7 linked regions of the Homo sapiens genome follow. The protein of the gene in region 6 purifies or fractionates together with the protein of the main gene of each other region. This does not show direct contact. Each region holds a gene or a part of one and is shown on either strand. Other genes may lie near its edges. The genes, in order: CTSS, TKT, THEM4, PAK2, NIT2, GOT2 and KYAT3.

Region 1 (4,771 bases), on a different chromosome or scaffold from region 6:
GCTCACTGTAGCCTCAAACTCCTCAGCTCAAAAAATCCTCCTACCTCAGCCTCTTGAGTAGTTGATATTACAGGCACATGCCACCATGCCCAGCTAATTTTTTAAATTTGTTTATAGAGACTGGGTCTCCCTATGTTTCTGGTCTTAAACTCCTGGCCTCAAGTGATCCTCCTGCCTTGGCCTCCCAAAGCTCTAGAGTTATAAGCATGAGCTTACCACATTCAGCTAATATTTATACTACATATAAATTTTGTATTTATGTGTATCTTTTTTCATTTAAATATATATCCCAAGTATTTTATTAGGTTATTAATAATAGTCTGAATAAATCTAATGCATGGAGTTGATTATGTCATAGTTTATTTAATCATATACCTATTGTTAGGCATTTTTGGCTACTTACTAGTTTTTACTATTAAATAATAATGCTACAATTCACATAAGTTGTGTATGAAAGTTTTCCCATATTTAGGATTATTTTCTTCATATAGATTCCAAGAAATAAAAGTAATGGGACACTGGCTGTGCGCAGTGGCTTGCGCCTGTAATCCTGGCACTTTGGGAGGCCAAGACAGGCAGATCACCCAAGATCAGGAGTTGGTAGACCAGCCTGGCCAACATGGTGAAACCCCATCTCTACTAAAAATACAAAAATTAGCCAGGTGTTTTGGTGGGCACCTGTAATCTCAGCTACTTGGGAGACTGAGGCAGGAGAATCACTTGAACCTGGGAGACGGAGGTTGCAGTGAGCCGAGATTGTGCCACTGCACTCCAGCTTGGGAGACAGAGCGAGACTCTGTCTCAAAAAAAAAAGGGGGGGGGAAGAATATGAACATTTAAAAAGTTCTTTATCATATTGTCAAATTGCTTCCAAGAAAGAGAATAGGCAGGGTAGGGTGGCTCATGCCTGTAATCCCAGCACTTGGGGAGACCGAGGTGGGCAGATCACGAGGTCAAGAGATCGAGATCATCCTGGCCAACATGGTGAAACTCCATCCAACATGGTGAAACTCCATCTCTACTAAAAATACAAAAATTGGCTGGGCATGGTGGCACATGCCTGTAGTCCCATCTACTCGGGAGGCTGAGGCAGAAGAATTGCTTGAACCTTAAAGGCAGAGGTTGCGGTGAGCTGAGATCATGCCACTGCACTCTAGCCTGGTGACAGAGTGAGACTCCATCTCAAAAAAAAAAAGAATAAATACAGCTTACTTTCCCATCAAACTGTATAAGAATGCCCATTTCACCAAGACAGGTGGGATTTCTATAGACAGCATTGGACTTCACAGGCATTTCAGAAAGATACAGCATATATAAAGAAACAGAGGTAGGGATGTATCTGTAAACTTAGGGAATGATGAATAAGTAGTTCACTGTGGCCAGAGTATGACTGTGGGTATATGAAAATATAGTGGAAGAAATGTCTAAGGTTATGTTAAAAGCTAGATAATGGAGTACCTGGAATGCCTGGCCAGGAGTTTGGACTTCATTTTTAGACAATGGTGAACTATTCAGAATTTTTGAGCAGGAGTTGACATGATCTATATTTTAAAAAGATACCGCTATAGCTGGGTAGAATGGAATCTGAATTACAGCAGGGCCATTGGGAATGGCAAAGAGAAAATACATATAAAATATGATTCACAGGCCAAATGGATAGGGCTGGGTGGGTTGAGGGGGGAAAAGGAAAAGGCCAAGATGATGCTTAGGCTTTAATAATCTGAAGATGGTAATATATTACCCAAAATAAGGAATAGTTTTCCCTTGAGCTTGTTTGAAAATCCTTTTCAGGGATGAGGGAAGAAAGGAAGAGAAGAACATTGTAAACTTATTGAGTATGAGAGTGTGTATATGTTGGTAGTAGGGTGATGTAGGTGGGGAGTTTGGATTTTTCAAGGAGAGCTGCCAAATTGGAAGTTGGACAAGGAAGTGTGTCACTTAGGAGGTCATTTTCAGAGATTATGAACTGGGGATCATCTACATAATGGCAATAGTTGAAACTGAAGGAGCAGGTGAGTTTGCTTTGATATAGATGAGTTTGCTTTGATATAGCAAACTCATGTAACAGGCAGGTGGATAAAATAACGTAAGATATGAGGCTAAAGTTGATGTAGCAAAATGAATCAAGATAGTGAGAAATGTGCCATTGCATATGTTTTTTGGGTCATTGAGAGCAACTTTCCAACCTCTAACACACTTTCCTCCTCCAATACATGAACAATTCCATACATCTGGAAACTTGATTCAAATAGTGTCTTCTCTGTGGAGGTTTAGGCTGTTAGGCATTTCCTCTTCAACAGTCCCATAGCCATTTAGACATGTATCATTATACCACGATGTGTTTGTTGTATCGTTTAAAAATACATCTAGGCTGGGTGCGGTGGTGGCTCACGCCTGTAATCCCAACACTTTGGGAGGCTGGGAGATATATATATATATATATATATATTTATAAATATATTTATATTTATATATAGAGAGATTTATATGTATGTATACATAATATATTATATATGTATATTATGTATACATAATATATTATATATGTATATTATGTATACATAATATATTATATATGTATATTATGTATACATAATATATTATATATTATATGTATATTATGTATACATAATATATTATATATTATATGTATATTATGTATACATAATATATTATATATTATATGTATATTATGTATACATAATATATTATATATTATATGTATATTATGTATACATAATATATTATATATTATATGTATATTATGTATACATAATATATTATATATTATATGTATATTATGTATACATAATATATTATATATTATATGTATATTATGTATACATAATATATTATATATTATATGTATATTATGTATACATAATATATTATATATTATATGTATATTATGTATACATAATATATTATATATTATATGTATATTATGTATACATAATATATTATATATTATATGTATATTATGTATACATAATATTTATATATTATATGTATATTATGTATACATAATATATTATATATTATATGTATATTATGTATACATAATATGTACACATAATATTTATATATTATATGTATATTATGTATACATAATATTTATATATTATATGTATATTATGTATACATAATATTTATATATTATATGTATATTATGTATACATAATATTTATATATTATATGTATATTATGTATACATAATATTTATATATTATATGTATATTATGTATACATAATATATTATATATTATATGTATATTATGTATACATAATATATTATATATTATATGTATATTATGTATACATAATATATTATATATTATATGTATATTATGTATACATAATATTTATATATTATATGTATATTATGTATACATAATATATTATATATTATATGTATATTATGTATACATAATATATTATATATTATATGTATATTATGTATACATAATATATTATATATTATATATGTATATTATGTATACATAATATATTATATATTATATATGTATATTATGTATTATATTATATATTATGTATATTATAGATTATGTATGCATACATAATATGTATTGTATATTATGTATGCATACATAATATGTATTGTATATTATGTATGTATATATAATATATATTATATATATTTTTTCATGTTAGATTGTGAGTGCCTTTAGGACAGGATGGTTTCTTACTATTTTTTGTATCTCCAGGGCCTAGATAATGCCAGTCACATTGTAGATGCCTAGTAAGTGCTTGTTGAATGAATGAGTGAAGAGAAGCAGATTTGAATTTCAACACTAAAAGATATAGATGATCTTCAAGAGCAACTTCAGTAGAGAAGGGAATTTAGAACACCTGCCGTAGGGAGTTCCTTAGAGAGTCAATAAGATATGAGGGAAATAGTTTCATTTTAAAAAGCTATCACTGGTCTACACCCAAGCTGATCAGTGCTGTGAATAGGTTATCAGTGAACCAAGATATTGATCCCCTCAGCTACTTTCCCCATGGGCCATACGAATATCATCATCTTCTATGTGTGCCACAGTGGGAAAAGGGTAGGAAAGCACCTTTTGTTTGATTTGTAGACTATGTACTTCAAGTAAAGATTTAAGGGGTGTTATGGGTTGCATTGTGTCCCCACAAAATTCATGTTGGAATCCTAACCTCCAGTACCTCAGAATGTGAACTTATTTAGAGATAGGGTTGATGTAGACATAATTAATTAAATTAAGATGAGGTCATTAGGGTGGGTCCTAATCCAACATGAATGATGCTCATGAAAAGGGAAAATTGGCCAGGCGCAGTGGCTCACACCTGTAATCCCAGTGCTCTGGGAGACCAAAGCAGGAGGATCACTTGATCCCAGGAGTTTGAGACCAGCCTGGGAAACATAGAGAGATCCTGTCTCTACAAATAGAAATTAAAATTGGTCTGGTGTGGTGGTGCATGCCAGTAGTGCCAGCTACTTTGGTGGCTGATGTGGGAGGATTGCTTGAGCCCAGGAGTTTGAGGTTGCGGTGAACATTGATCACCCCACTGCACTCCAGCCTGGGTGACAGAGTGAGACCCTGTCTCAAAAAGGGGAAGAAAGTAAAATTATGAATAGAGACAGAAATGCATACAGGGAGAATGTCATGTGAAAATGAAGGCAGAGGTCAGGGTGATTGTCCTAAAGGCTGAGGAAAGTCAAAGATCACCAGCAAACTTTCAGAAGCTAGGGGAGAGGCATCAAACTTTTTTTTTTAATTAAAAGAAC
Region 2 (4,771 bases), on a different chromosome or scaffold from region 6:
CACAACAGATGTTTCCGTAGTCCCCTACTCCATTTCTTTGAGTTAAAGCGTTGTTTATGTACCTGGGCTCCATGGCAGAGCAACCCATCAATTCAGTCCTGTATTCCTTAGCCAGCTGGGTCAGCACAGAGCAGGACACTGAGGGAGAGGCCAGGACGAGCAGGGAGAAGGCACCTGGGAGAGGTGGGCCCAGCCAGGTCTCCTCAAAGACCACTCACCATTCCAGGGCCCGTGTGACCCTAGTCCCAGGCAAGGTGTGGCTGGCAGTGGGCAGCTGGGCTCTTACCTTGGAGAGCACAAAGCGGTCATTGTGCGGATTCCGGGGGTCCTGGGACTTGTAGCGCATGGTGTGGAAAAAGAGGACAGCCATGATCTCTGCGGCGCTGCAGCATGACGTGGGGTGGCTGTGGCCCAGGAGAGAAGACAGACACAGGCATCATGGCCCTGCACTCCTGAGCTATTGTGCTCAGCTGTACAGGGACCTGGGGGTGCATGTCCTGAGGAGTCACACAGGCCTGGCTTATCAGACAGCCACGAGCTCTTGTTCCCTGGGAGGGTGACACATGGTCTCAAGAAGGCCACTCCTGGCAGTTTGGGGCCTGGGCCAGCTAGTGGGTGCTGGGGACTGTTGTACCTTTCCAGGGGCATCAGATCCTCAGAATCACGGCAACTGAAAATATCTGGGGTTGGACTTGAGTAAGAAGGAAGGAGGGGCCCAGGAGAGATCTAGCACAGAAGACTCAGCCCAAGGCTAGCACTGCGGCTGGGGGCAGCTGCTGTCAGGTAGAACCCAGTTCCCACCTAGTGGCCCCCAGGAGTCTAAGGACTCAGCAGCCAAGGGGTGCCGGCATTCCTACGACTGACCCCACATCCTGACAGGACTGCCCGGACACTGCCCACTTGTGAAGGGCACCCTGCCCTCTCAGCACCCAGGGGTGCTGGGCCTCTGAGCCCATGGGGCAGGGAGGAAGGGACTGAGGCTCATGGAGTTACCACAGACCTCCCAGCAGCCTCCACGCATGGGGTGTGGTAGCCTGAAAAACTGGGCCTTGGGCTTTCCAATTGCATCACTGGGCTACTTGAAAGCTTTAGAAATGGGCAGTTTGAGGGCTGCTGTAGCAACTAGGAAACAGGCTTTTGTGTAGAATTTTCAAAGCAAGACACATAATCTCATCTCCTACAAGGCTACAATCATGTATTAATAAAAACCCCTTCTGCCTATGGACAAGGGCTGAGGAAGGGCTGACAAAGCAAGAACCTGCCTTCCAGCCTGGGAGTGGTGGGGCCACGGAGTCCCCTTGGCTTTTTAGACTTGTTTTAATCACTGAGCGGCTCCTGAGCAATAGAAAGCGTAAACTTTCTATTGCTTCCTGCTTCCCAGCAGGAAGCGCTGCAGGTCCTGATCAGCCCTGAAGCCCTCTGGTCCCAGGGTTTTGTTAAAAGTTCAGCCTCAGGGCACAGGCCTCCCGGGAGGGCCCCTCCACATGCAGCTCAGCTCAGCTCAGCTCAGCCCTCTCGCTGCTCCCAGAGGTCCTTCACACGAAGACACGCCGCATGCCAAGCCCAAGGGCACATGCACCATCTGGAGCTCACGCCGCCAGCCTCCCGCCCCTCCAATCAGCGCTCCCACCAGGTTAGGGGTGAGTCACGCTCAGTGCAGACAAGTTAGTAGTAGAGAAATCCAGAAAACTGTCCATGCTGGTTTAGTACCAACATTCTCGCACACGATCATCTTATACTTAACTATTTCTATGAACTCCCGGTCATGGGAAAAGACACTACACCTGAAAGAGGGAGGGGAGGACATGGTAAACGAGAAACCCTTTTCTGCCTGGCAGGGACCCTAATCCCACGCTCCCAGTGCCAGCTTCAACTGGAGGCCACCCTAATCCCACGCTCCCAGGGCCAGCTTCAACTGGAGGTCACCTCAGGCTGACCTCTCGTCCTTCCCACCTCCAAGGGCAGCCCCGGCCCTGAGGGGTCCTGTTTCTAAAGCCATGGTCCCATTAGGAGGGATCCTTGGTGGGAGAAGGATGTGGGTGGACACTGGGCCAAACTGTTCCGGGGAAGAACAAGGACGGTAAGTGCAGGGCTCCACCTGCCCCATCCACCTCGACACCCCGGGGTGACAGTCCCATTGGCCACCAGAAGGGGTTCCAGGGAGAAATGGTGTGGCACAGGCTCTTTCTGTGTGTGGCAGAAGCACACCCAGGCCCAGATAGAGTAAACGTGGAGAGAGGAAGGTCAGCTGCGAGGTGACCAAGGGTGAGAAGTAGAACGTGCAGCTGATTTTAAGCCTTCCTTGCTAGGCCTGCAGCCTTTCATTCCTTCCAAAGGCTGCATCCAGCCTGCTGCGGCCACTCTCTTCACTTCTACCAAGTAAACACGCACAAAAGAAGAACGCTTAGGAGCCAGGTGTCCCCGCACTCTTCCCCAGAGCTTTTGGGGCTCTCCCTCGGCAGAGCATCCTGGGTTGGGGAGGTGAGCTGTGCCACTTGGGCTTCGTGACTTCAACAAGTGCTTCGTCAACCCGGGGCTCAGCTTCTTCACTTGGGAGAGTGTCTGGGAGACACAGTGAGATAACGCAGCATGCACAGTACCCAGGTCTCTAGCAGCCGCCACCACTGCCAACCCTCTCAGCACCTGCAGCTCTTATCTACAGGCAGGGATGGTGACACCACCCACTCCTGCTGGCCACAGGCAGGCAAGAGGGGAGAAATACACCAAGGATTGAGACCGGGCTCTGCACACTGTAAAGCACTGAGCACACAGGAGACAGTTACTTTCAAGCTCAACTTCCTAGCGGGCCTTTGGGGCCAAAGGCATACATTTAAGCCTGTGGCCTCCTCAGGGCCAGAGTTTTTCCTGCCATTCCAGACTGCCTGCACAACTGCAGGTGGACGCCCCATCCCGTGGTGCTGTGTGTGACAACTCTGGGTGAACACTGGCGAGAGATGGGGTGAGGAGCACGGTGGAGGGGCTACAGGGTACTTACTGTATACCCTGACTCTGTGATAAACAGGGCTAACAAGCACACTTGACTGTTCAAAAAAAAAAAAAAAAAACTAACACACCCTGCCTTGACCAAAACAGTCCACTTACAACCCCAATTAGTTCAACCTGTGACGGTGGTGTGGCAAGCTTAGAGCTAGGCCCAAAGAAAGTCTCTTAAAGCCCCCTCCAGGCTGGGGGCAGTGGCTCACACCTGTAATCCCAGCACTTTGGGAGGTCAAGGCAGGCGGATCACCTGAGGTCAGGAGTTTAAGACCAGCCTGGCCAATATGGTAAAACCCCATCTCTACTAAAAATACCAAAAAATTAGCCAGGTGTGGTGGTGGACGCCTGTAATCCCAGCTACTCGGGAAGCTGAGGCAGGAGAATCACTTGAACCTGGGAGCCAGAGGTTGCAGTGAGCCAAGATTGCACCATTGCACTCCAGCCTTGGCAACAAGAGTAACACTCCATCTCAAAAAAAAAAAAAAAAAAGCCCCCTCTCCACTCCCCTCCAGGACAATATATATTCTTCCAGATGTCCCCTGGCCAGGAGAATCTCTGTCATCGCTTTAGTGCTCACTCCACCTGCTCACAGGTTTCTATGCAAGAAAAGGCCAGAGAGGCTCCCTCACCCTCCAGATGGGCTCCTTCAAGAGATAATGGATGTCAGGTTGGGCGCGGTAGCTCACACCCGTAATTCCAGCACTTTGGGAGGCCAAGGCAGGCAGATCACCTGAGGTCAGCGGCTCAAAGACCAGCCTGGCCAACATGGTGAAACCCCGTCTCTACTAAAAATACAAAAATTAGCCGGGCGTGGTGGCACATGCCTATAATCCCAGCTACTTGGGAGGCTGAGGCAGGAGAATAGCTTGAACCCCGGAGGCGTGGGTTGCAATGAGCCGAGATCATGCTACTGCACTCCAGCCTGGGCAACAGAGTGAGACTCTGTCTAAAAAATAATAACAATAATGAAAATAATTTACCAAAACTGACTCAAGAAGAAATAGAGAACCTAAGTAATCTTTCAAGCATTAAAAATAAACCAGATCAGTAGCCGAAGATGCACATCCCTTAACTCCCAGCAACTTCACCAGTAGGAACATACAGTGAAATGTACTCACATGTTCCACACATTCTACAGGAAACACAAACAGGCCGGGCACAGTGGCTCACACCTGTAATCCCAGCACTCTGGGAGGCTGAGGTGGGTGGATCAACTGAGGTCAGGAGTTCGAGACCAACCTGGCCAACATGGTGAAACCCTGTATCTACTACAAATACAAAAATTAGCTGGGCATGGTGGCAGGCACCCGTAATCCCAGCTACTTGGGAAGCTGAGGCAGGAGAACCACTTGAACCCAGGAGGCTGAGGTTGCAGTGAATCAAGATCGTGCCATTGTACTCTAGACTCGGTGACAGAGTGAGACTCCATCTCAGGAAAAAAACAACAACAACAACAAAAAAAAGGAAACACAAACAGGGCTGCCCCGCATTGTTTGCAATTGCAAGACCTGGAACTCACTTATATGTTTATCAATAGACGAGGTTAACTGGAATATATTAATATAATGGGATACTATACAGCAGTAAGAATGAGCGAGCTACACTTCACAAATCCGGTATCAATATTCTCTCCCAAATATAGTGTGAAAAAAGCACAGTGCAGAAGGATCTGTTTAACAAAGAAGACCATATTGATTTATGTACAAGTCTTTTTGTATATACTACAAGGAAAACAGGCCAGGTGCGGTGGCTCAAGCCTGTAATCCCAGCACTT
Region 3 (4,771 bases), on a different chromosome or scaffold from region 6:
TAAATTCAAGTGATCTGCCCCACCTTGGCCTCCCAAAGTGCGGGGATTACAGGCATGAGCCACTGTGCCCAGCCTATCTTGAACCCACTCCCTCAAAACAGCTCTTGCCAAAGGTACCAGTGACCTTCATGTTGCTGAGTCCGCTAACCTCTCAGCTTTTGGCACAGCTGTTGACTCCTTTCTGTTTGAACATAACTTCTAGGACACCACATTCTCCACTTCACTGGTGCCTCCTTTTCAGTTTCTTGGGCTGGCTCTTCCCCATCCTCAAACCCTTCATGTTGGGGTGCCCTCAAGTCTCAGTCCTTAGTACTCCTCTCTTCTCCACACTCCATTGGTAATCTCATGCAGTCTCTCAGCTTTAGAGACCATCCAGAAGTTGACAACTTCTTAATTAAATGGTTGAAATTTAGTGCCTGGGTTCAAATTCTGGTTCCACAATTTAAAGCTGTGCAACTTTGAGCAAGGCACTTTACCTTTCTGTGCCTCAGTTTCCTCATGGTAGATACTTTAGTATTTGCTGAAGGAATGAATAAAACAAAAATAAAACTAATCAAGAAAAATTATAGAGTTCTTAAGTTTCTTTGCAGAATCTCTGATATATCTCGAGGGAAGAATTATTCTGTTTTATAAATGAAGAGGAAAAATGTGTAGTTTGTATTACTTATTCTCTTCCAACTGTTAGCACATCACACAACTGACTGTCCTTATCCCAGCACAATCTGGCTTCTACCCTCACAGCTCTACTGAAATGTCTTCATTGAAGCCACTAGTGACGGAAGTGCCAAATTCAGTGTGCATTCTTCAGCACTTACTGTACTAGACCTCCCTGTCTCATTCTCATTGAAACATTTTCTTTTGGCTTTCATAAACCTTTCAGACCAATCTTCCCTCCTCCTTCTACTTGCTCCTTAAATGTCAATGTTTTCCAGGGTTCCATTCCTACATTTTGCTCATTTCTTCATCCAACCCTCATTCGCTCTTGACTAAAATTTGACCCTCTCAGAATCAAGAGGAGTTTGAGATCCTCTTTGCTACCCACACTTGTTTTCAAACCATTACTTCCCCTCATCTTAAAAAGCCCTCTGGGCTGGGCACAGTGGCTCAACACTTTGGGAGGCCAAAGTGGCAGATCACTTGAGGCCAGGAGTTTGAGACAAGCCTGGGTGACAGAGCAAGATTCTGTCTCAAAAAAAAACAAAAACAAAAAACCTCTGTTTCTTTGAGTTTATACCATCTAACTTTGTCACCCTCCTCTTCTTCTCCTCCTTGTTGCTGTCATCTGTCAACCTCTCCCTCAGTGTTGAGTATTTCAGCAGCTGGTCCGCTATCTACCCAACTCCATTCAGCATCCTCAGCAACTCGAGCATCTACACAGTGGCTCCTCAGTTTATGTGCTTCCTCATCACCTATGAACTTTTCTTATCCCCCAGCCCCAGCCACACACTGCCATGAACATCTCGAGCCTTATCTTCAGACAGTACACAGCCTCCAAATGCATACATTTAAACATCCTGTTTTCTGATGACAGCATTTTTCCTTTCAGCAGCTTACTTGTTCAAAGGCCCCTCAGAAACAATTGTTATTTCATTAAGACCTTCTGAGTTCATTGAATCCTTTACTTTCTCATGGTCCAATAGCCCTCATCTATCTGAACTTTTGTAGCCCACCTAACCTAGGAAAACCCCAGCCCTGGATGAATCCAACCATCTGCCATCTTTACTTTGAACTGGCTTTCACATAGTTAAGCATTGCTAGAGAAAATCACCCCATCTAGCAGATAAGTTTGGTGATTGTGATTTTTGTAGTTTCATCTCCTGTCTCCATTCTTATCCTCCTCAAAGCCCTTCTTCCACTCAACTGTCAGAATGATTCAAAATGCAAATCTCATCATGTTATTCCAATGCTATTTTCAGTGCTATCCCATTTCTTAAAATACTCTTGCCTTTCAGACTTAAAAATGAATATGAAGCACCTAGGAATCTTGTTAAAATGCAAGTTCTGCTTCAGAAGGTCAGAAGTAGAACCTGAGATTCTGCATTTCCAACAAACTTCTTTCACCATCACAAAGGACAAACACATCCTCTTGAGAGTAGTAGCTTTTGGTCTTTATTTTGAAATGACCTACATTTTAACTCAACCCAGACCTTATTTTTCTCATTTTTATGAAATAAGCTCAAGGTTTGCCAATCTAGACCAGAAATCTCAAACTCCTAAGTAAAACAATTATAAGCACTTAACACCTATCTTATCCTGAAGTCCTGGAATGTCAGAGTTGGAAGAGATCTTAGAGCTCATTTTGTTTTATCTCCTCATTGTATGGATAAAGTGTAGTGCAAAAGAGTGAGTTCTAGGCCAGAGGTAGGCCAATAATTTAATTTTCCCAACTCACGGGCCAAGGTTCTTTCCACTGCACCATAATACTGATCCCCAATTTTAAGGTTCCTTGTCTGTCCTTCTAAACCATCAATTCACTCAACAACTGCTTAAGTGTATATAGTATGTGCACATCTGTGCCATTTGTTGGGTATGCAAAGTCTAAAAGACAGGGTGCCTGCCCTGAGATGCTCATGACCTAATTCAAATGCATCCTTCCTGTCCCTCTCCCCACTTCTCCTGGATCTTCTCATCTGTATCTTTTTCCACGTTTGTAAATATAAATTCAATAGAAATAAACAGTTTTATATATGGCAAATCATGATGAGCTATGAAAGAAAGGTGAGTAGGGGGATTAAATTTTAAAATAGATACAAAAGGATAAATGCACTATTTCTTGAGAGCAATGGCTTTCAATCTTTATTTTGAAGTGACCTATATTTTGATTCAATCCAGTTCCCCCAACTTGCTCACAATTGTGTAAGTGAAAAAAAACTGTGTCTAAACAAGTGCACTATTACTTACCCAGAGTATATGGTTCTGTTAACTAAGTGTTCTGTTTCTTTTTAAAGCCTGGTTAATGGCCGGGCGCTGTGGCTCACGCCTATAATCCCAGCACTTTGGGAGGCCAAGGCAGGCGGATCCCTGAGTTCGGGAGTTCAAGACCAGCCTGACCAACACGGAGAAACCCCGTCTCTACTAAAAATACAGAATTAGTCAGGCGTGGTGGTGGGCGCCTGTAATCCCAGCTACTCAGGAGGCTGAGGCAGGAGAATCGCTTGAACCCGGGAGGCGGAGGTTGCGGTGAGCTGAGATCACGCCATTGCACTACAGCCTGGGCAATAAGAGTGAAACTCTGTCAAAAAAAAAAAAAAAAAAAAAGAAGCCTGGTTACAACCCACAATCTGATTTCATGAACCCTAATGGTTCTCACTGCCAGTTTTGGGGGCTTAGAGTCACAATCACTTGAGTGTTGGGCTGAACTGACCCTGTTGCTGATTCAGACTCAACTCATGTCTGCCAGGGAAACCTCCTTTCTGTTACATTTTTTATTTTCTGTAAATTGCATTTAAACCACAGTTCTTCCAAGAAGGATTTCCGTCTTTACCGTACCATTTTATTCAGTATATTGTTAGCGTTTATATACTATATTCCTGATTGCCATGTGTGGGTACTTCATTTTGATTTCATGTCTGTTTACTCTGTCCCCAGTTGGACTGTTAATTCCACAAGGGCAAAGATCCTATCTTCTGTTTCATTGAGACGCTCCCATTCCTTTCAATTTTGCACCCTGTGGACATTTGAATCAATCATCTATTGACATGTGATTCTAGCAGGGTACAGGTGCTTGGCTCTGCCATGGCATTTCTCTCACCCTTGTTTCTCATTTGCCATCCACCTCATTTTCTATAGACCCAAAGCTTATGAAAGAAGAACAAATGTCACAGGCCCAGCTCTTCACCAGAAGCTTTGATGATGGCCTGGGCTTTGAATACGTGATGTTCTACAATGACATTGAGAAAAGGATGGTTTGCTTATTTCAAGGAGGCCCTTACCTGGAAGGACCACCTGGGTAAGAATGATAGCCTGAAAGTGTGGATCTAAAAGATTTTTATCTTACACTGCCCCCATGTGTCCTGTACATGGACTACAATAAAGATTTTCAAATGGTCACATAGATGTATATTTATTGACATGGAAAGATGTTTATAATACATTATTAAAGGACATCTTATCTATATTATTAATATTGATTAAATATTTTTATATATGAGCATTATAATATTATAGGGCATAGGGCAATAGAGTATAATTTGAGAGCATATCATTAATGTGTTAACAGTGGCTTGTCACTGACTAGGTGGGTAGTATTATGGGTCCTAAATTTTTTTCTTTTTTTTCATATTTGCATTACCTACATTTCTAAACAATGAATATGTATAGTTTGTTTTGTTTTGTGAGACAAGGCCTTGCTCCTTTGCCCAGGCTGAAGTGCAGTGGCATAATCATAGCTCACTGCAGCCTCGAACTCCTGGGCTCAAGCAATCCTCTCACCTCAGTCTCCCGAGTAGCCAGAACTACAGGCACATGACACCACACTTGACTAATAATAAAAACATAATATAAATTTTCTAAATTACATTTTAGCTTTTTGCTTGCTTGCGATCTGGTTACTATTAAGTTCTGGTTTTATTACAAATACTTAAGACTATATTATTATGCTGTGAACAAAACAAAGTTGGGGACATAGATAGTATTTGGCATTCAGTACACTGAACATGGGCTAAGTGGACCTTTCATAAGTAAATAGTGTGAAGATGCTTGGATAATTTTTCTCTTTCAAGAGGCTCTCTATCTTCAGAACTTCTGAAAACATTTCTCCTCCACTCCTGTT
Region 4 (4,771 bases), on a different chromosome or scaffold from region 6:
GAAATCATCAGAGTTGGGAGAATGAGAACTTAAACCACAGACTTAGAAAAAAAATATCTGCAAAAGAAGTATCTACCAGCCTGCGCAACAGAGTGAACCGTCTCTACAAAAAGATTTTAAAAATTAGCCAGGTATAGGCCAGGCACGGTGGCTCACGCCTGTAATCCCAGCACTTTGGGAGGCAGAGGTGGATGGATCACCTGAGCTCAGGAGTTCGAGACCAACCTGGCCAATATGGTGAAATCCCATCTCTACAAAAAAAATACAAAAAATTAGCCAGGCGTGGTGGCAGGCGCCTATAATCCCAGCTATTTGGGAGGCTAAGGCATGAGAATTACTTGAACCCAGGAGGCGGAGGTTGCAGTGAGCCCAGATCATGCCATTGCACCACAGCCTGGGCGACAAGAGCGAAACTCTGTTTCAAAAAAAAAAAAAAGAAATAGCCAGGTAAGGTAGCGTATCTGTAGTCCTGGCTACTCTGGAGGCTGAGGTGAGAAGATCGCTTCAGCCTAGGAGCTCGAGGCTGCAGTGAGTTCTCATCGTGCCACTACATTCCAGCCCAGGCAACAGAGCAAGACTCTATCTCAAAAAAAAAACAGAAAACAATGAAACACTACTACCTATTGGAATGGGTAAAATCCAAAACAATGATAACATGACATGCTGGAAAAGATGTGAAGCAACAGGAACCCCCACATCCATTGCTGGTGGGAATGCAAAATGGTACAGCCACTTTGGAAGAAAGTTGAACAGTTTCTTACAAAATGAAATACATTCTTACCATACACTCCAGCCATCATGCTCCTTGGTATTCACCCAAATCAGCTGAAAACTTATGTCCACCCGAAAACCTACACATGAGCACTTGAATAGACATTTTTTCAAAGAAGATATACAAATGGTCAATAAGTACATGAAAAAATGCTCAACATCACTAACTGCTAGAGAAATGCAAATCAAAACTAACATGATACCACCTAATACCCATTAGGATGGCTACTATTAAAAACAACAACGGTTGTGTTAAAAAGGATGTAGAGAAACTGAACTGCTGTGCGCTGCTGGTGGAAACGTGAAGTGATACAGGCGCTGTGGAAAGCAATACGGTAGTTCCTCAAAAAATGAAACACAGAATTATCATATGACCCAGCAATTCCATTCTGGGTATGTACCCGAAATAACTGAAAACAAGGTCTCAAAGAGGTATTTGTACACCCATGTTCGTAGTAGCATTAATCTCAGTACCTAAATTACGGAAGCAATCCAAGTGTCTACTGATGAATAAATGGACAAGCAGAATAAGGTAAATACACACATGGGAATACTATTCACCCAAAAAAAAAAGAAAAGAACTTCTGACATGCTACAACACAGATGAAGCTTGAGGATAAGTGAAATAAGTCACAAAAACACAAAATATGATTCCACTTACATAAGGTACATAAGAGTAGCCAAAATCATGCAGACAGAAAGGAGAATGAGGAGTTATGGTTCAATGGGTATAGAATTTCAGTTTTGCAGGATGGAAAGTTTCGGAGATGGATGGTGGTGATAATTGCACACTATAAATGTATTTAGTACCACTGAACTGTATACTTCAAAATGGTTAAGATGGTAAGTTCTGTTACATGTATTTTACACCACAATAAAAAACTCCACACATCAATGTTTACAGCAGCTTTATTCATAATCACCAAACCTGGTCCTTCAATAGGTGAATGTACATCCAGACAATGGAATATTATTCAGTGCTAAAATGAAATGAGCTATCAAGCCATGAAAAGACACGGAAGAACCTCAGATGCATACTGCTAAGTGAAAGAAGCCAAGTTGAAAAGGCTACACGCTATATAATTCCAACTACGGGACATTCTGGAAAAGGCATTGCGATGGAGGTAGTAAAAGGATCAGCGGTTGCCAGGGGTTGCAGTAAAAGTGGGAGGAACAGGTGGAGCAGAGAGTTTTAAGGTGCGGAAACCAGTCGGTATGATACTGGTGGAGACATGTTGTTATACATTTGTCAAAACCCACTGAATGTACAATACCATACGAGCAAACCCTAACGTAAACTGTGGGCTTTGGGCAGTGATGATGTGTGAATGCTGGTTCACTGACTGTGCCAAATATACCACAGTGATGCAGGATGTTGATGAGCAGGAGGCTTGGAGAAGAGGGGCATGAGGAGCATGGGGTATATGGGAACTCTGTACCTTAGGCTCAGTTTTGCTGTGAACCTAAAATGCTGCAAAGTCTATTAATTAAAATGAATAAAAATTTCTAAAAATCATTAGAAATAAGAGAGTGACACTCAACCAACACATACTTATTTCATACCTATTTGTTCAAAGCTCTGTAAAACAGAATAGTATATTAAAGAAAACCAAATAAATGAAAAAGAAACTTCAGATGGAAGTGCTATAAAGGAAAATAAACACACTGAAGGGCAGGAAGTTAGATGCGGAGTGGGGGTAGGCAGAGGTGATCATGAAAGATCTCTTTCAAATATGGCCTCAGTGACATTCAGGCAGAAGAAATAAAAATCTAAAGGTCCCAACGTGAGAACAAGCTTCTCAGAAACAATGCTACCTCTTTGTCTTTGGCAGATTAGGAAGATTTTTACATTAATAAGAATTATTAATAACGACTATAGTTCTTACTAGGACTAATAAAGACTAAGTCCTATATTTAGTAAGAACTATTTATAAAAACTGGTAATTCATACAAATAATCTTAGTCATTAAATTTAATCAATAGGTTATGTATAAAACTCTGTATATTACCAACAGAAAATGTTCTAAGTTTTCATAGAACATTTTCCAAAATGGATTATGTTTTAAGTCACAAGAAACACTCAATAAGTTTAAAAGATATTTTAAAAGATTATAGAAGCTGACAACAATGAAAGAAAATATGAGTGAATAGAATTATCCTAAATACCTCCTGAGTCAAAGAGGAAATCAAAACTAGAACCACCAGCTATTTGGAAAATACTGAGCAGAAGAACATTGTCCATGTAAATTAGAATGTGCAGCCAACGCTGCATTCAAAAGCAAATTAAGAACATTAAAGGTTTTTATTATTAAAAGACATTAAAATGAACTAGCTTTGCACAGTGGCGGTATCGTAGCCAATGAGGTCTATCCGAGGAGCGATTACCGCTCATCGAAAACACATTAAAGGAACTAAGAATTCATTAAGAATTAATAACATTAACATTAACTTAATGTTAACATTGTTAACAACAAAAAAAAAAAGCAGGAGAGCAAAATAAAGAGAAAAGTAGAAATCAGGCATTCAGAAAACAAACAAAAAAAAACCAATACAATAAGTAAATCTCAAAGCTGGTTAGTAAAAAAAACCACTAAGTAGACAAACATTTGGCAAATTCAGAAAAATAGTGAAATCACTAATAAAAAAAAGGAAATGAATACCACAGATCTTAATGACAAAAGATTATACACACCTATATAGTAACAGATTTGAAAATCTAAAAGAAATGATCTAGGAAATACGAATTATCAAAAGTGACTCATGAATAAGGATTCCTGAATAGGTTATAGAAGTTAACTACAGAAGTTATCATAAAGGCCTATCCTTTTTTTTTTTTTTTTTAATGAGACAGAGTTTCACTTTTGTTGCCCAGGCTGGAGTGCAATGGCACGATCTCGGCTCACTGCAACCTCCGCCTCCCGGGTTCAAGCGATTCTCCTGCCTCAGCCTCCCGAGTAGCTGGGACTACAGGCACCTGCCACCACACCTGGCTAATTTTCTATTTTTAGTAGACACAGGTTTCTCCATGTTGGTCAGGCTGGTCTCAAACTCCAAACCTCAGCTGATCCACCTGCCTCGGCCTCCCAAAGTGCTGGGATAACAGGCATGAGCCACTGTGCCCGGCCTATTCTTATTAATCTAAATTTATATGAGATTCTCCTCTAACCTTTCAATAAATTCCGTACGCAGGACTAATATGAGTGGGATTTTGGTTATTCACGATATATACCTTGTGATACCTTTGATTAATAGCAAATTTACTATTACATATCCTCAGCAATAGTTAAAAGAAGAAAACCATATCATCATCTAAATGTTACAATAGCATCTCATAAAATTCAGAAGCCATTCCTATTTTTTGTAAAGCAGAAACAGAATAAAATAATAATCTTTCTCTAAATCCAACAGCTGCCATCATCCCTAACTGTAAAAATATTAATACCAGAGTCATTTCAAGACAACGACACGTCTCTTGTTTAACCAAGTCTTGGAACTTCAGGCCAATGTAATAAAGACCTAAAACAGGGTTAAGGGCTGGGCACGGTGGCTCATGCCTGTCCAACACTTTGGGAGGCTGAGGCAGGCGGATCACGAGGTCAGGAGATCGAGACCATCCTGGCTAATACGGTGAAACCCCGTCTTTAAAAAAGAAAGAAAAAGAAAAAAAAAAAAGGTTAAATATTGTAACCATAGAAAAGTGACTGAAGTTACTATTATTCTCAGATAAAACAATGAACCTGGAAAACAAAATAAAGACGTTTACTGAAGTCCAGTAAGATAATAAAAATACCAATGAACAGAAAAATCTAGTTACTACTTCTTCTTTTTTTTTTTTTACTTAGAGATGGAGTCTCGTTCTGTTGCCCAGGCTGGAGTGCAGTGGCTTGATCTCAGGTCATTGCAACCTCCGCCTCCCGGGCTCAGACAATTCTCCTGCCTCAGCCTCCGGAGTAGCTGGAACTACAGGTGTGCACCACCACACCCAGCTAATTTTTTGTGT
Region 5 (4,650 bases), on a different chromosome or scaffold from region 6:
AGGCATCTCCTATAATTAGTATGTAGCATTTTATTCTCAGAAAATGTGTGGTAACCTGGCCCTGGATTTTACCTTTTTGCAAAGTGATATCCGAATAAAATGAACACTAGATTCCCACTTGGAGTGGAAGAACATTGCAGTTGAGGCCTTGGGTAAGTTTTAACTGCCATACCCCTGTACTCCCCGACTTTCTAATGAATTAGACAATGATGTTTTATTTTTGTTTTTTGTTTTTGCATAATACTTTGAAGTCTGCTATCACAAGTTGTGAACCTCTATCTCTTGCAGTTTAGGTAAGGCAACACATTTAATGAATTCACATTTAAGTGAATTCCTCACAGGGATGACGACCTCTGTTGAAATAGGTCAGGATGTGCAGTTTGTGGTGAAAGTTCTACTTGACTTTGACCTAGCTGTTTGAAGCTGAGAGCTAACAGATAATAAGTGTTGCACTGGTTGCAAATGAATAAATAAGTAACATTATGGGGTTTTAAATGACCAAGGAGTAGATTGTGACATCGACTGGGTATTTAGGGAAGGACTCCTTCCTGATACCAAAAGTTAGGTCTGTGCAAAGTACACCAAGTGGAAAAAAGTTTAGACAAGAGTTTAGGTTTCAAGATAAATGTTCTGCTCTATTGGCACTGGTTTTAAGTCTTTTGTGCTACTTTTTAGGCATTGCTGTGTAAGTTTTGGTGGTGCGTGGGTACAATGAAGCCAGGAGGGATAGAAAGGGAAATGATGTGTGTGCTGCAGGCTAAACAGGGGCTCTTCCTTATGCCTCATAACCACCTGTGTGTGACAGTTTCACATTTCCTATCAAATTATTATCTTCATTCATTTCTACTTGTGAATGAAGTTCGGAGACTAAGAAAAAGCCAGCTGTTGGAATAGAAAGCACTTTAGGATAAAATGGTCTTGTTAAAATCACCAATTAAAAAGTTAAGCCCCTGATGTACAAATAACTAAAACACATACATACAAAGACAGTGCTTCTTGTTCAATGATTTACTTCACAGCTGATTCATAATCAAATGAACAAGAATCTGCAAGAACAGAACATGGTGGGCAGGGTCCAGTAATTCCAAATGTTGTCATCCTAGCTCTTCCTGAAGCATATTGAATCCTCCAAGTATATCCCGTTGTGCTAACTAGGCTTTAAGTCTTTTGTCTGTAGATTCATTCTCAAAGTTTCTCCCTCAGAACAAAGAGCACGCCATCCTGTAAAGTACTCTTCCTGATTTTTTTTCACCCAATTTCTTAGTTTCTTTCAATTGCTTTTCAGACCCCGGCAGGCAGATTCTGCCCTCATCTGTCCAGTGACACTCTTCTGGCAGATTACTAAAGACCGATTTGTAGACCTGTCCATGTGGCCTCTCTCAACACCATTGGTGTGACCTTGCTCATACTGCCTCTCTCACCACTTAACATTGTCCCTTAGATGTTAAAGGCCCTTATATTAATAGTTTTATTTTAGCTCCTTTACATTTTATTTTGTCCTGAGGAATCTCAGCTACATGCATGGTCTTCAATATATGCCGATAATTCTCATTCACATAGCTCTCCTGTTGGCTTTTCCCCACTCGTTTAAAAACAACCACTTCACTTTGCTGGACTCTACCTTGAATGCCTCATTTTCAGCTCACACTCATGCTGTGCCTTTATTTAGATTTGTTGTGGTTGTTTCCCCACATTCTGGAAGCTCCTTACCTAAATCCTGTTTATTCCTTAATGCTTAGCACAATTTATTACTCTTGTTTCCATGGCACTACATTGTACTTCTGTTTTAGAGACTACCTTCCTCTGAAGCATATGACAGGTTCATTTACTATCCAGCCCACCAAAACTCAGTTTTTGAGCTCCTCTATGTTCATCTTTTTATGGCTAACCCTCACCATCATGAGTGCTTAGTAAATGTTGAGTTGGAATGAATTTATTCCTACAGGTTGCACTTGCTCTCTCACCAAGTGTTCTGGCCAAATAATTCTGGAATGATTTCCTTACCTTAAGGGAGTCTGATCTGGGAAGAGCCTGGGACGTGATGTAACTTCATATGCTGTAGAGCTGAATATTCATTTACTTAAGATCTTAGCTCCATTAGAAAGCAGTGAAAGCAGTGTTAATTCAGAGGCCGGGTATGGTGGCTCACGCCTGTAATCCCAGCACTTTGGGAGGCCAAGATGGGCAGATCACTTAAGGTCAGGAGTTCAAGACCAGCCTGGCCAACATGGCAAAACCCCATCTCTACTAAAAATACAAAAATTAGCCGGGTGTGGTGGCACATGCCTGTGATCCCAGCTACTCGGGAGGGTAAGGCAGGAGGAGGTTACAGTGAGCCAAGATCACACCACTGTACTCCTGGGCAACAGAGTTAAACTGTATCAAAAAAAAAATGCAGTATTGATTTAGAGCTAAGGTCACCTGATGCTCAGGCCAGTAATTTCTCCCTGCATCATGCTGTTGTCTAAGGCAGACACTGTAAAGCTCTACACTGCTGAAAAACTAAGCTTGAGATGCATAAAAGAACACATAGAGATGGGGAGTCAGTTCTCCATACATTTTGTGAGTAGAGGCATTGGTGTTTTGTTCCAAACTATCCAATCGAGAATGTTCATATAATGACAGCTTTGGAAGGTAGAGACTATCTTCCTCTGGATCATAGGACAGGTTTGTTTACTATCTGATACAGTCAAAATAGTGTTTCCCTCTAATGCGAAAGTCAGGCCAGTTTGCTTGTGACCTCATTAGATTTGGGCTGTGACGCAAACCCACTGCATGTGCAGTATCCACCTAGCTTGCCCTGTGTCACTCCCATGGGATCTGTGGCTCAAACTCATGTTGCTTGCTATGTTCTAAATAATTAAGTCTGTTGTCTGACCCAGGAGTCTCATGTCTTCTGCCAGCATTCAGAAAACTAGTTTTCAAGAAGGGTAACATCTTAGACCTTTTACAGCTCTTGACACAGAGCAATATTGAGAAATAAAATCAGGTAAAAGTTATTTAATATAGCAGTTCATAATTTAGGCCATGGATCATCTCTGCAGAGAATCCTACCATGCTGCATTCTTGCTTTAAACCTTTCGCCCTCTAAAACAATGCCCAAGAGCCAATGTTAGTCATGGTCTTCCTGTATTTGCTCTAGGTAAGCTGTTTCATAGCCTTCCAGGACAACACTTGCACAGGTTATCTTTAAGCACCAACAAAAGAAATGGAGAAATTTGAGCCATGTATCCTGAGCTCTGAAAGGCAGCAATCATCTTGACCCCAAGCATACACCATGTTCAGCTTCCTCCCCTTGGCCAGGTACCACAGCTACTTCTATCCCAGTGATCAGCAGGCCCTCCAGCATGAAGACCTTTGAGAAGGATCTATAGCTGTCAACTCCTAATATGATTTGTGCACTATCACCTTGAAGTAAACCAGACTAGTTATTTTCATGCTAAGAGTCTGAAAACAGTGCCTTCTTTCTGATGTCTCTTGTAGAATATTGGCAGAGGGATCTCAATTTTTACTTTATACCTGAAGGGCAGCTTTTTGGTCTGATAGTTATAGTGCAATCATTCATATTTTAAATCACAAATACCCCCACTTGTTGATGAAAACTCCAGTCTGTGGCATGGGTGTACATTCACTGCCTAAACCATCTTTGGCCAAAATTTGTGTGTATATGAAGTCATTCTACTTTAGCATACTCAAAGGCATTCCTTTAAACCATTTATCTGCTTGTACACAATAGCCAAAGGAATATTTGTTACTATGGCTGATGTAATAAACTATCATCACAAATTTAGTGGCTGAAAAAAAACAAAGTTATTCTCTTTTACTTCTGGAGTCCAAATTCATGGGGCCAAAATGAAGGTGTTGGCACTCTGCTCTAGGGCAGGATCCGTTTCTTGCCTTTTCCAGTTTCTGGTAGTTGCCAACATTCTTTGGCTTGTGGCCACATCACCTCCAGTCTCTGCCTCTGTGGCAACACTGCCATCTCCTCTTCTGTCTAAAACCTTCCTCTTACATAGACATTTGTGACTGCATTTTAAGGTCACCAGATCATCTAGGATAATCTCCCCTTCTCAAGACCCTTCACTACATCTGCAAAGCCCATTTTTTGCCAACTAAAGTAACATTCACAGGTTGCAGGGATAAGGATGTGGCTGTCTTTTGGGGAATCATTACTCATCCTATCAGTGTGGTAAAGCTTGCAAGTAAATTAAAATTTTGTCACTTTGTTCACAAATCAATTTAGCAGAGGATGGGAATAGGACTAATTATAACCCGTATCCCCACAACAACTCCTAAGTTATTTCCTTATAAATACAAATTCCATACAGGACAGTCTTGGGTAATTGTTATTCTATACTCCTAAGTTTCCTGGTTTGGCTATATTGTCCTCCTGTTATAGTCTTATAACAATTAGTTGACTTCTACAGGTACAAACTACTATTTAAACTACAATTTGAGTTCCCAGAGGGCAGAAAGTTCTGTCTGAACTGTTTTACAGCCAAAGTTGCTTTTTATTGTTTTGGGATGTATTCTCTACTTATACCACAATTTTCGAGGATGATTATTTCAGGTATGCTTTCTGAGAGACTCCACGTGGTTGAGAACTATGATCAATCTCACTGGTGAAACCAGATTCAAAATAAACTTATC
Region 6 (3,500 bases):
GTGAGCCTTTATTCTTAATTCTCTTCTTGGAAAGCCCTTTTACTCCTCCTTTCAGCCTTAGCACTCAGCTGCTAAGTCACGTCCTCTGGGAAGCCTTCCTAACCTTGTGCAGTACTTTCCTTCCCTTCTCCAAGCTATTACGTCCTCTGCTCAGGGCTCCCATAAGTAATATCCCATAATAATGCCCTGGGTAGGTGTGTATCACTATCCATCATCTCCCTGCAGTGCCCAGCCTGCATTACGTGCAGATCTCTGCTGATCACCACAGTGTACTAGTCAGGTGGTAAGGGATTGTGTTGTACTCTTCTTTACATTCCCAGCCCTTAGCATAATGTTCTTAATGATTGCTTTAGAAGATCATAAAGCCTAGAAAAGTGTTCTGGCAAGGCAGAGAATCTCTACACTCTAAACTGATTGCACAGTTTTTTCTTTTTTTAAAAAAAAAAAAACCTTTTATATTGTAGGTGAAGTCATTAATGACTAAACCAAGGAAACTAGGCCATCAAGATTGGGCAAACTTTGTTAAAATGTTAACTTGTGTGCGCCTGTAGTCCCAGCTACTTGAAAGGCTGAGGTGGGAGGATGGCTTGAGTCTAGGAGGTCAAGGCTGCACTTCAGCCTGGGGGACGGAGTGAGACCCATCTCTTTGTTTGTTTGTTTATTGAGACGGAGTCTTGCTCTATTGCCCAGGCAGGAGTGCAGTGGTGCATTCTCGGCTCACTGCAACCTCCGCCTCCTGGGTTCAAGCGATTCTCATGCCTCAGCCTCCCAAGTAGCTAGGATTAAAGGCGCACGCCACCTTGCCTAGATAATTTTTGTATTTTTAGTAGAGACAGAGTTTCACCGTGTTGGTCAGACTGGTCTCAAACTCCTGACCTCAGGTGATCCGCCTACTTCGGCTTCCCAAAGTGCTGGGATTGCAGGCGTGAGCCACTGCACCCGGCCGAGATCCATCTCTTTAAAAAAGAAAAAAAAAGTTAACTCAGCTTCTTTTCAGATTCACTTACTATAAATCAAAACAAAATTCACAGCCGGGTGCAGTGGCTCACGCCTGTAATCCTAGCATTTTGGGAGGCCAAGGTGGGTGGATCACTTGAGGTCAGGAGGTAGAGACCTGACCAACAGGGTGAAACCTTGTCTCTACTAAAAATACAAAAATTAGCCAGGCGGGGTGGCACACATCTGTAATCCCAGCTATTTGGGAGGCTAAGGCAGAAGAATCGCTTGAACCCAGAGACAGGTTGCAGTGAGCCACGATCGTGCCACTGCACTCCAGCCTGGGTGACAGAGCAAGACTCCGTCTCAAAAATAAATAAATAAATAAATAAATAAAGCAGGCCGGGGGCGGCTCACGCCTGTAATCTCAGCACTTTGGGGGGCCGAGGTGGGTGGATCATGAGGTCAGGAGTTCAAGACCAGCCTGGCCAACACGGCGAAACCCCGTCTCTACTAAAAATACAAAAATTAGCTGCGCATGGTGGCAGGAGTTTGTAATCCCAGCTACTTGGGAGGCTGAGGCAGGAGAATCGCTTGAACCCGGGAGGCGGATGTTGCAGTGAGCCGAGATCGCACCATTGCATTCCAGCCTGGGCGACAAGAACAAGACTCCGTCTCAAAAAAATAAAAAATAAACAAAATTCACTAAGTTTTGTCCTCATATGCTCTTTCATATTTAAAACAAACTGGTCTTTTAGGATGGTAGTTCTCCCTGGGAACATGTTCTGTGTTAGTTATGTTAGCATGCAATGTGTTTCCATCATTGCTATTGTCAAATGAATCAAAAAGTATAACAAGCTGCTCAGTTTTTCTAATACAGTAAGTATTAATAGTTATACCCCACATAAATAAAAGCTCTTTGGGGTTTTCAGTAAGTTTTAAGAGTATAACAGGATCTAAAGATCACAAAGTTTGAGAATTGCTGCTTTAGACCAATACTACTCTTTTTCCTTAAAAACACACAGTTGTATTTATTTGTCACTGTTGATCCTAGTGTGGTCTCAACACTCATTGCTTATCTTTTAACCAAAGTAGCTTCTATTTCCCAGAGAAAATTAAGAAGAGAGGGTGGTGATGTCAGTCCTACACAAGCATTCTAAACAGACTGGCAAAACTCGTGAACACACGCAGTACAACTTCTACAGCCACATGTATCCCTTTTATACCTCCTTAAAGTGGCAACAAAGAAAGACCTTTTTATTTTAATGACTCAAAGCTATAGCCTCTCGAGCATGTAAAAATAAACAAAGGTATATAAATTTTAAATTATGCTTGGTAATCAATGTGTCTGTAGTCTATCTTAGAAATTATTTAGGTATACAATGAATAATAATCTGTTAATCAATTCATTGTAATATTAGACCAAAAGTGTAAGTTACCCTAAAGATCTTAGAAATTGTCTTCAAGGCCAGGCGCAGTGGCTCACGCCTGTAATCCCAGCACTTTGGGAAGCTGAGGCGGGCAAATCACATGAGGTCAGGAGTTCAAGACCAGCCTGGCCAACGTGGTAAAACCCCATCTCTACTAAAAACACAAAAATTAGCTGGGTGTAGTGGCGGACACTTGTAATCCCAGCTACTTGGGAGGCTGAGGCAGGAGAATCACTTGAACCCAGGAGGCGGAGTTTGCAGTGAGCCAAGATCACGCCACTACACTCCAGCCTGGGTGACAGAGTGAGATTCCATCCCCCAGCTCCAAAAAAAAAAAAGAAAGAAAGAAATTGTCAAGCTGGCATATTACAAAATACAATTACTGTTCTCCCAAAAGCTTATCCCCAGTCTAATAAGAAAAACATCAGACAAATTCCAGTAGAGGGGCATCCTACAAGATACCTGACCAGCATTCCCAAAATTGTCACAGCGAAGAGGAGCTTATGGAGACATGCAACTAAGCATAATGTGGTGTCCTAGATGGAATCGTGGAACAGAAATAGGTAAAAGCTAAGGAAATCTAAATAATGTGTGGACCTAATAATGTATGGACCAGGCATGGTGGCTCATGCCTGTAATCCCAGCACTTTGGGAGGCCAAGGCGAGCAGATCACCTGAGGTCAGGAGTTTGAGACCAGCCTGGCCAACATGGCGAAACCCCGTCTCTACCAAAAATACAAAAATTAGCTGGGTATGGTGGCGGTCATCTGTAATCCCAGCTACTCCAGAGGCTGAGGTGGGACAATCGCTTGAACATGGGAGGCAGAGGTTGCAGTGAGCTGAGATCACGTCATTGCACTCCAGCCTGAGTGACAAAGAGGGAAACTGTCTCAAAAATAATAATAATAATGTATCAGTATGGATTCATTAATTGTAACAAGTGTGCCATACCAATGTAAAATGTTAATAGGGGAAACCTGGGGGTAAGGGTATATGGGACTGTACTATCTGCTCAATTTTCTGTAAATCAATACTGTTTTGGCTCACGGAGGCTGAGGCAGAATTGTTTGAACCCTGGAGGCAGAGACTGCAGTAAGCCAAGATTGCACCACTGTACTTCAGCCTGGGTGACAG
Region 7 (4,771 bases), on a different chromosome or scaffold from region 6:
AACTATTTAAATATTATTTAATATTTAATATTTTTAATATATATTATGGAAATAGGGATTTAGTTACCATCATTCTATGGATAATCAAAATGCTGAAAAAAATAGTATTTTTCTAGAAGGCAGTTAAAAGGGCAAAAGAACCAGGCACAATGGCTCACGCCTATAATCCCAACACTTTGGGAGGCCAAGGTGAGCGGATCACCTGAGGCCAGGAGTTCGAGACCAGCCTGGCCAACATGGCAAAACCCTGTCTCTACTAAAAGTACAAAAATTAGCTGGGCATGGTGGCAGGCGCCTGTAATCCCAGCTACTCAGGAGGCTGAGGCAGGAGAATTGCCTGAATCCAGGAGACAGAGGTTGCAGTGAGCTGAGATCGTGTCACTACACTCCAGCCTGGGCAACAACAGCAAGACTTCGTCTCAAAAAAAAAAAAGAAAAGAAAGAAAAAAAAGATGTTGATAGATATGAAGAAGAAAGATAAAATAGGGAAGAGGAAGGATATAAAGCTCCAGGTGGGAGATATACAGTGTTAAATAGGGTAATCTTTGAAAGCCTCCCTGATAAGGTAACATTTGAACAACTAACTGAAGGGGATTAAGCAGCCACATGGTTACCTAGAGAAAAACCCCTTTGGACAGAGAGAACAAGCGGAAAGGCCCAGTGGTAGACAGCCTGGCTGGCATGTTAATATCAGAGAACAGCACAGAGACTGGAATGGAATGATTGAGAGAAGAGTAGGAAAAGCTAAGATCAGAGAGGTAGCTGGGAGTCCAATGGAGCTGGGGCATGCATGTCACTGTAAGGACTGAGTGAGATAGGAAGTCACTAGAGAGTTTTGAACTCAGGAGTGACTTGGTCTGGCTTGTGTTAGCAAATGGACTCTGACTGCCTCATTGAGTGAGAAAGCTGTTACAGTGATCCAAGAGAGAAATGCCAGTGCATTGAACAAAGATGGGGGTGGTAGAAGCAGTAAAAAGTGATTGGACTCTGAATATATTTTGAAAGTAGAGCCAACATTATTTGTCAATAGGTTACATATGGGATATGTGAAAAAGAAAGGAGTCCAGGATAATGCTGTAGTTAGGATGGATGTTTATGTCTCCTTATACTTGGAATTTTCTAAGGCAGTATCTCCTATAGTAAATGAACAAGTTGCCAAGAGAAAAAAAAAAAAAGATATAGCTAAGAATGCAGAACATCTTTTTCTGAACACTCTTATTCTCCATTTCAGCTAGGTGCTCTGTTTTGTCCTGGGACAACCATGTTTGGTTCCAGGAAACCACAGATTTCCAGGCTAAGGCAATCGATCCTTATTTTCCAAGATTTTGTAGTACTGGAGATTTATTACTAATTCTGTTTTACTGCATTCTTTTGGCATAAAATCTCTGTGATCTTGCCCCTCTCTGTCTCCAGTCTCATCTCTTGCCACACAGTCTCTCTTACCTGCCTGGTCCTTAATGTCTTAGTTGGACTGGGTGGCTTATAAACAACAGAAATTTATTTCTCACTGTTCTGGAGGCAGCAAAGTCCAAGATAAGGCACCAGCAGATTTGGTGTCTGGTGGGGACATGCTTCTTCACGGATGGTGCCTTTTGCTGTGTCCTTACATGGTGGAAGGAGCAAGCTAACCCTCCTTTGTAAGGGCACTAATCCTGTTCCTGAGGGCTCTACCCTTCTGTCCTAATCACTTCCTAAAGGCCCCACCTCCTAATACCATCACCTTGGGGTTTACTATTTTAATATATGAATATGAGAGTGGGCACAAACATTCAGTCCACTATACTTAACAACATTGGCTTTTTCCTTGGCCCAGTTTGCTGTCCTGGCTCTTGAAGAAAGATAGAGGAATTACTGTAGATGTTCCAGAAACTCATTTCTAGTCCCTCTTACACTTTGACCAACTTCCTGGCATATGAATAATTCCAGCAAGGATTTCCACACCTATGGAGAATAAGAAAGGCACATTTCTCCTTTGCACAGTAGGTGAGCTTTCATTTCCACTCTGTCCCCAAATGTAATGGTGAGAGGCTGACTACTCTCTGGTTGTTCTTCTGACTTAGATTTAGCAAGTCATTCTACAACTCACCTCAGCAGAAAATATCTTAATGTCTTTTTGTTTCCAAGCAAGCCACCTTTAAGTAACAGCTCTTTTTCAATTTGAATTTTCAGGACTCCTTCTCAGTTCTTCACATGAGATTTAATCATTTAGGTATAACTGATTCCTCCATTAACCTATAGAGTTTAATATAGGTTCACAGGAATTCAACTGTTATTTCCTGAGTGACTTCTTTGCCAATAATTTTACTCAGATCATCTCTATTTATTATACCAATAAACTAAGCAATAAATAACATTGCCATATGCCTTTTCATATTTTTTGATTCTTAACAAACAGGAAGCCTTGGCTCAAGCTTTCTGGATTGACATCAAGCGCATGGATGACCCAGAATGTTACTTTAATTCTTTGCCAAAAGAGTTAGAAGTAAAAAGAGATCGGATGGTACGTTTACTTGAAAGTGTTGGCCTAAAACCCATAGTTCCTGATGGAGGATACTTCATCATCGCTGATGTGTCTTTGCTAGGTTTGTAAAGGCTTTTATTATTTCAACTATACGGAAACTTATGTGTGAAATTATATCAGAATTATGGAGAAAAGATTGGTGTCAAAGCCACAGCAGCATTTTATCTGTGGAGAAGGATGGATTTTTGCAATGTCTACATTTTCTATAATTATCTTTACTTTTAGGCCTTTTACCTTAAATGTGACCATTGTTAAATGGTTATGGAGTCAGTGTTGTTCTAGTTAGTCTATTAAACATAGGATTTGCTATCACTCTCTTCTGGTGTGTAATTTTAAAACACAAGTGTGTGAAATAATATTATATACTCAGTGTTCATTTGAGTAAAATTGTAGTTTCCTTTTTACTTAACAAAATGTACTATTTCATTAGAAAAATATCTAGAAATTTTGAAGCTATCAGGGAATATTTGCCATTTTAGAATGTACTGAAATAAAATAAATGGGAGAATAACACTTATTGAGGGTCTACTTTGTGCCACGTACTCAAAACACCCTTTTGAAGAAAACATTAGCTCCATTTTTGCAGGTAAAAAGATTTAGAAAGTTTTAAATAGCTTCCCTGAAGTCACACAGCTAGATTCTAAATAGTTCTGTTTCCAAAAAGCATTGTTTTTTATATTACCTAAAGCTGTTATATGTAATTCTGACATGCCATACAAATCTAAAGTTAGAAGCATGATAATGTGTCATATATAACTTTTCTTTTAAAAAAATTAGTAATAGTAAACCTTGAAGCCTAATTTATCATGACAGAAATTACAGCCATTCTAAATATAGTTTTAAATGTTTTAAAATTTTATTACAATGAAGTTATATGCCAATGAACTTGAAAAACTGAAGTGTTTTATTTATACTAAATTGTATAAAGCTGGAAAGAGTAAAGGAAATTTTCAATTTTATAGCAAAACATTGATCATATTTTTTAACTTTACATCCTTCACATAGGAGTTTGTTTTGTTTTGTTTTGTTTTGTTTTGTTTTGTTTTGTTTTGTTTTGTTTGAGGCAGGGTCTGGCCCTGTCACCCAGGCTGGAGTGCAGTGGCGTGATCTCAGCTCACTGCAACCTCTGCCTCCTGGGCTCAAGCCATCCTGCCACCTGAGTCTCCTGAGTAGCTGGGACCACAGGCATGCACCACCACACCTAGCTAATTTTTAAATTTTTTTTAGAGACGAGGTTTTGCCACATTTCCCAGGCTGGTCATGAATTCCTGAGCTTAATGAGTGATCCACCTGCCTCAGCCTCCCAAAGTGCTGGGATTACAGGCATGAGCCACTGGCTGAGTTCTTTCTTACTATAAGCATTTGATGCTAGCAATTTTTACTTGTAATAGTTCATTATCATCTTAGCAAATTTCAGAAAAGTAAGGTGTTATGATTTTCCTATAATTTGGTCTTCAGGTCTGTCTCTCTGGAAAGTGGCTGTAAACTCTAGCTGTTCCCTGATGGGGCTCCAGGGGAGGTCCTGGATGTTTGCAGTGTGCCTTTCATGGGCTACTTGTTTATCCTGGCAGATGGCCTGATGTTAAGTGTCTGACCCATGACCAGACATCCCTGGAAACTGGTTTATACTGGCAGACATCCTTGTGGCTCTCATCTGACCTGTATCCAGTTTATTTCCACAGAGATAGCCACTCTCTAGGAGGAGGAGAGTTAGGTTCCGGTGTGTTGGTCAGTTGGGACACAGAAGAGGCAGCAGGCCTCCCGGGACCAATGGGAAGTGAGGAGTGGTCCAGGATATACACACTCAACCAGCAGGTGGGGAACAGAGAGAGAGTGGGATCTGTGGGCCAAAGCCTTTTTGGGGGCCCAAGGTGTTACCCAAGCAGGTTTCCTGCAGAGACTTCTAACAGATGGGTTTAGAGCGAGCAGGCACAAGCTCATGGTGTCAGGCTGTGACTGAGAGGTGGTCACTGTGGCATATCTAGGCAGTCCATGAGGAGGGTGGGGGTCAGTGGGCGAGTCAAGTAGGTTGTATCTAGCTGTACCACAGTGAGGTGCTCGCCAGGAGGTGGTTGTCTCAGGCAGATATCTGAATCAACTACATTGAGGAACTGTGAGGAGGAAGAGAAGTGGAAATTGTGTCAAGGGTGACTAAGCCCTGCTTCTGGTATAAGAAAGACCAACTTATATTCACAATGGATGCCAAGACAACATACAGTCATAAGAATTCATTACATGAGGTTTGGCTCA

What was found.
Region 1: the proteins of GOT2 (region 6) and CTSS fractionate together in Homo sapiens (co-fractionation; one large-scale study listed by BioGRID). This does not show direct contact.
Region 2: the proteins of GOT2 (region 6) and TKT fractionate together in Homo sapiens (co-fractionation; one large-scale study listed by BioGRID). This does not show direct contact.
Region 3: the proteins of GOT2 (region 6) and THEM4 fractionate together in Homo sapiens (co-fractionation; one large-scale study listed by BioGRID). This does not show direct contact.
Region 4: the proteins of GOT2 (region 6) and PAK2 purify together in Homo sapiens (co-immunoprecipitation; one large-scale study listed by IntAct). This does not show direct contact.
Region 5: the proteins of GOT2 (region 6) and NIT2 fractionate together in Homo sapiens (co-fractionation; one large-scale study listed by BioGRID). This does not show direct contact.
Region 7: the proteins of GOT2 (region 6) and KYAT3 fractionate together in Homo sapiens (co-fractionation; one large-scale study listed by BioGRID). This does not show direct contact.

Annotation. Positions count from the first base shown.
Region 1 is NC_000001.11:150,741,072-150,745,842, forward strand, and holds part of CTSS (cathepsin S isoform 1 preproprotein), read right to left. Parts: intron 1-4,771. UniProt on the Homo sapiens protein: Thiol protease. Key protease responsible for the removal of the invariant chain from MHC class II molecules and MHC class II antigen presentation. The bond-specificity of this proteinase is in part similar to the specificities of cathepsin L.
Region 2 is NC_000003.12:53,241,839-53,246,609, forward strand, and holds part of TKT (transketolase), read right to left. Parts: intron 405-4,771; coding exon 287-404; intron 1-286. UniProt on the Homo sapiens protein: Catalyzes the transfer of a two-carbon ketol group from a ketose donor to an aldose acceptor, via a covalent intermediate with the cofactor thiamine pyrophosphate.
Region 3 is NC_000001.11:151,888,392-151,893,162, reverse strand, and holds part of THEM4 (acyl-coenzyme A thioesterase THEM4), read left to right. Parts: intron 1-3,789; coding exon 3,790-3,949; intron 3,950-4,771. UniProt on the Homo sapiens protein: Has acyl-CoA thioesterase activity towards medium and long-chain (C14 to C18) fatty acyl-CoA substrates, and probably plays a role in mitochondrial fatty acid metabolism. Plays a role in the apoptotic process, possibly via its regulation of AKT1 activity.
Region 4 is NC_000003.12:196,745,655-196,750,425, reverse strand, and holds part of PAK2 (serine/threonine-protein kinase PAK 2), read right to left. Parts: intron 1-4,771. UniProt on the Homo sapiens protein: Serine/threonine protein kinase that plays a role in a variety of different signaling pathways including cytoskeleton regulation, cell motility, cell cycle progression, apoptosis or proliferation.
Region 5 is NC_000003.12:100,358,193-100,362,842, forward strand, and holds the end of NIT2 (omega-amidase NIT2), read left to right. Parts: 3' UTR 1-3,443; downstream 3,444-4,650. UniProt on the Homo sapiens protein: Has omega-amidase activity. The role of omega-amidase is to remove potentially toxic intermediates by converting 2-oxoglutaramate and 2-oxosuccinamate to biologically useful 2-oxoglutarate and oxaloacetate, respectively.
Region 6 is NC_000016.10:58,724,317-58,727,816, reverse strand, and holds part of GOT2 (aspartate aminotransferase, mitochondrial isoform 1 precursor), read left to right. Parts: intron 1-3,500. UniProt on the Homo sapiens protein: Catalyzes the irreversible transamination of the L-tryptophan metabolite L-kynurenine to form kynurenic acid (KA). As a member of the malate-aspartate shuttle, it has a key role in the intracellular NAD(H) redox balance.
Region 7 is NC_000001.11:88,946,902-88,951,672, reverse strand, and holds part of KYAT3 (kynurenine--oxoglutarate transaminase 3), read left to right. Parts: intron 1-2,395; coding exon 2,396-2,582; intron 2,583-4,771. UniProt on the Homo sapiens protein: Catalyzes the irreversible transamination of the L-tryptophan metabolite L-kynurenine to form kynurenic acid (KA), an intermediate in the tryptophan catabolic pathway which is also a broad spectrum antagonist of the three ionotropic excitatory amino acid receptors among others.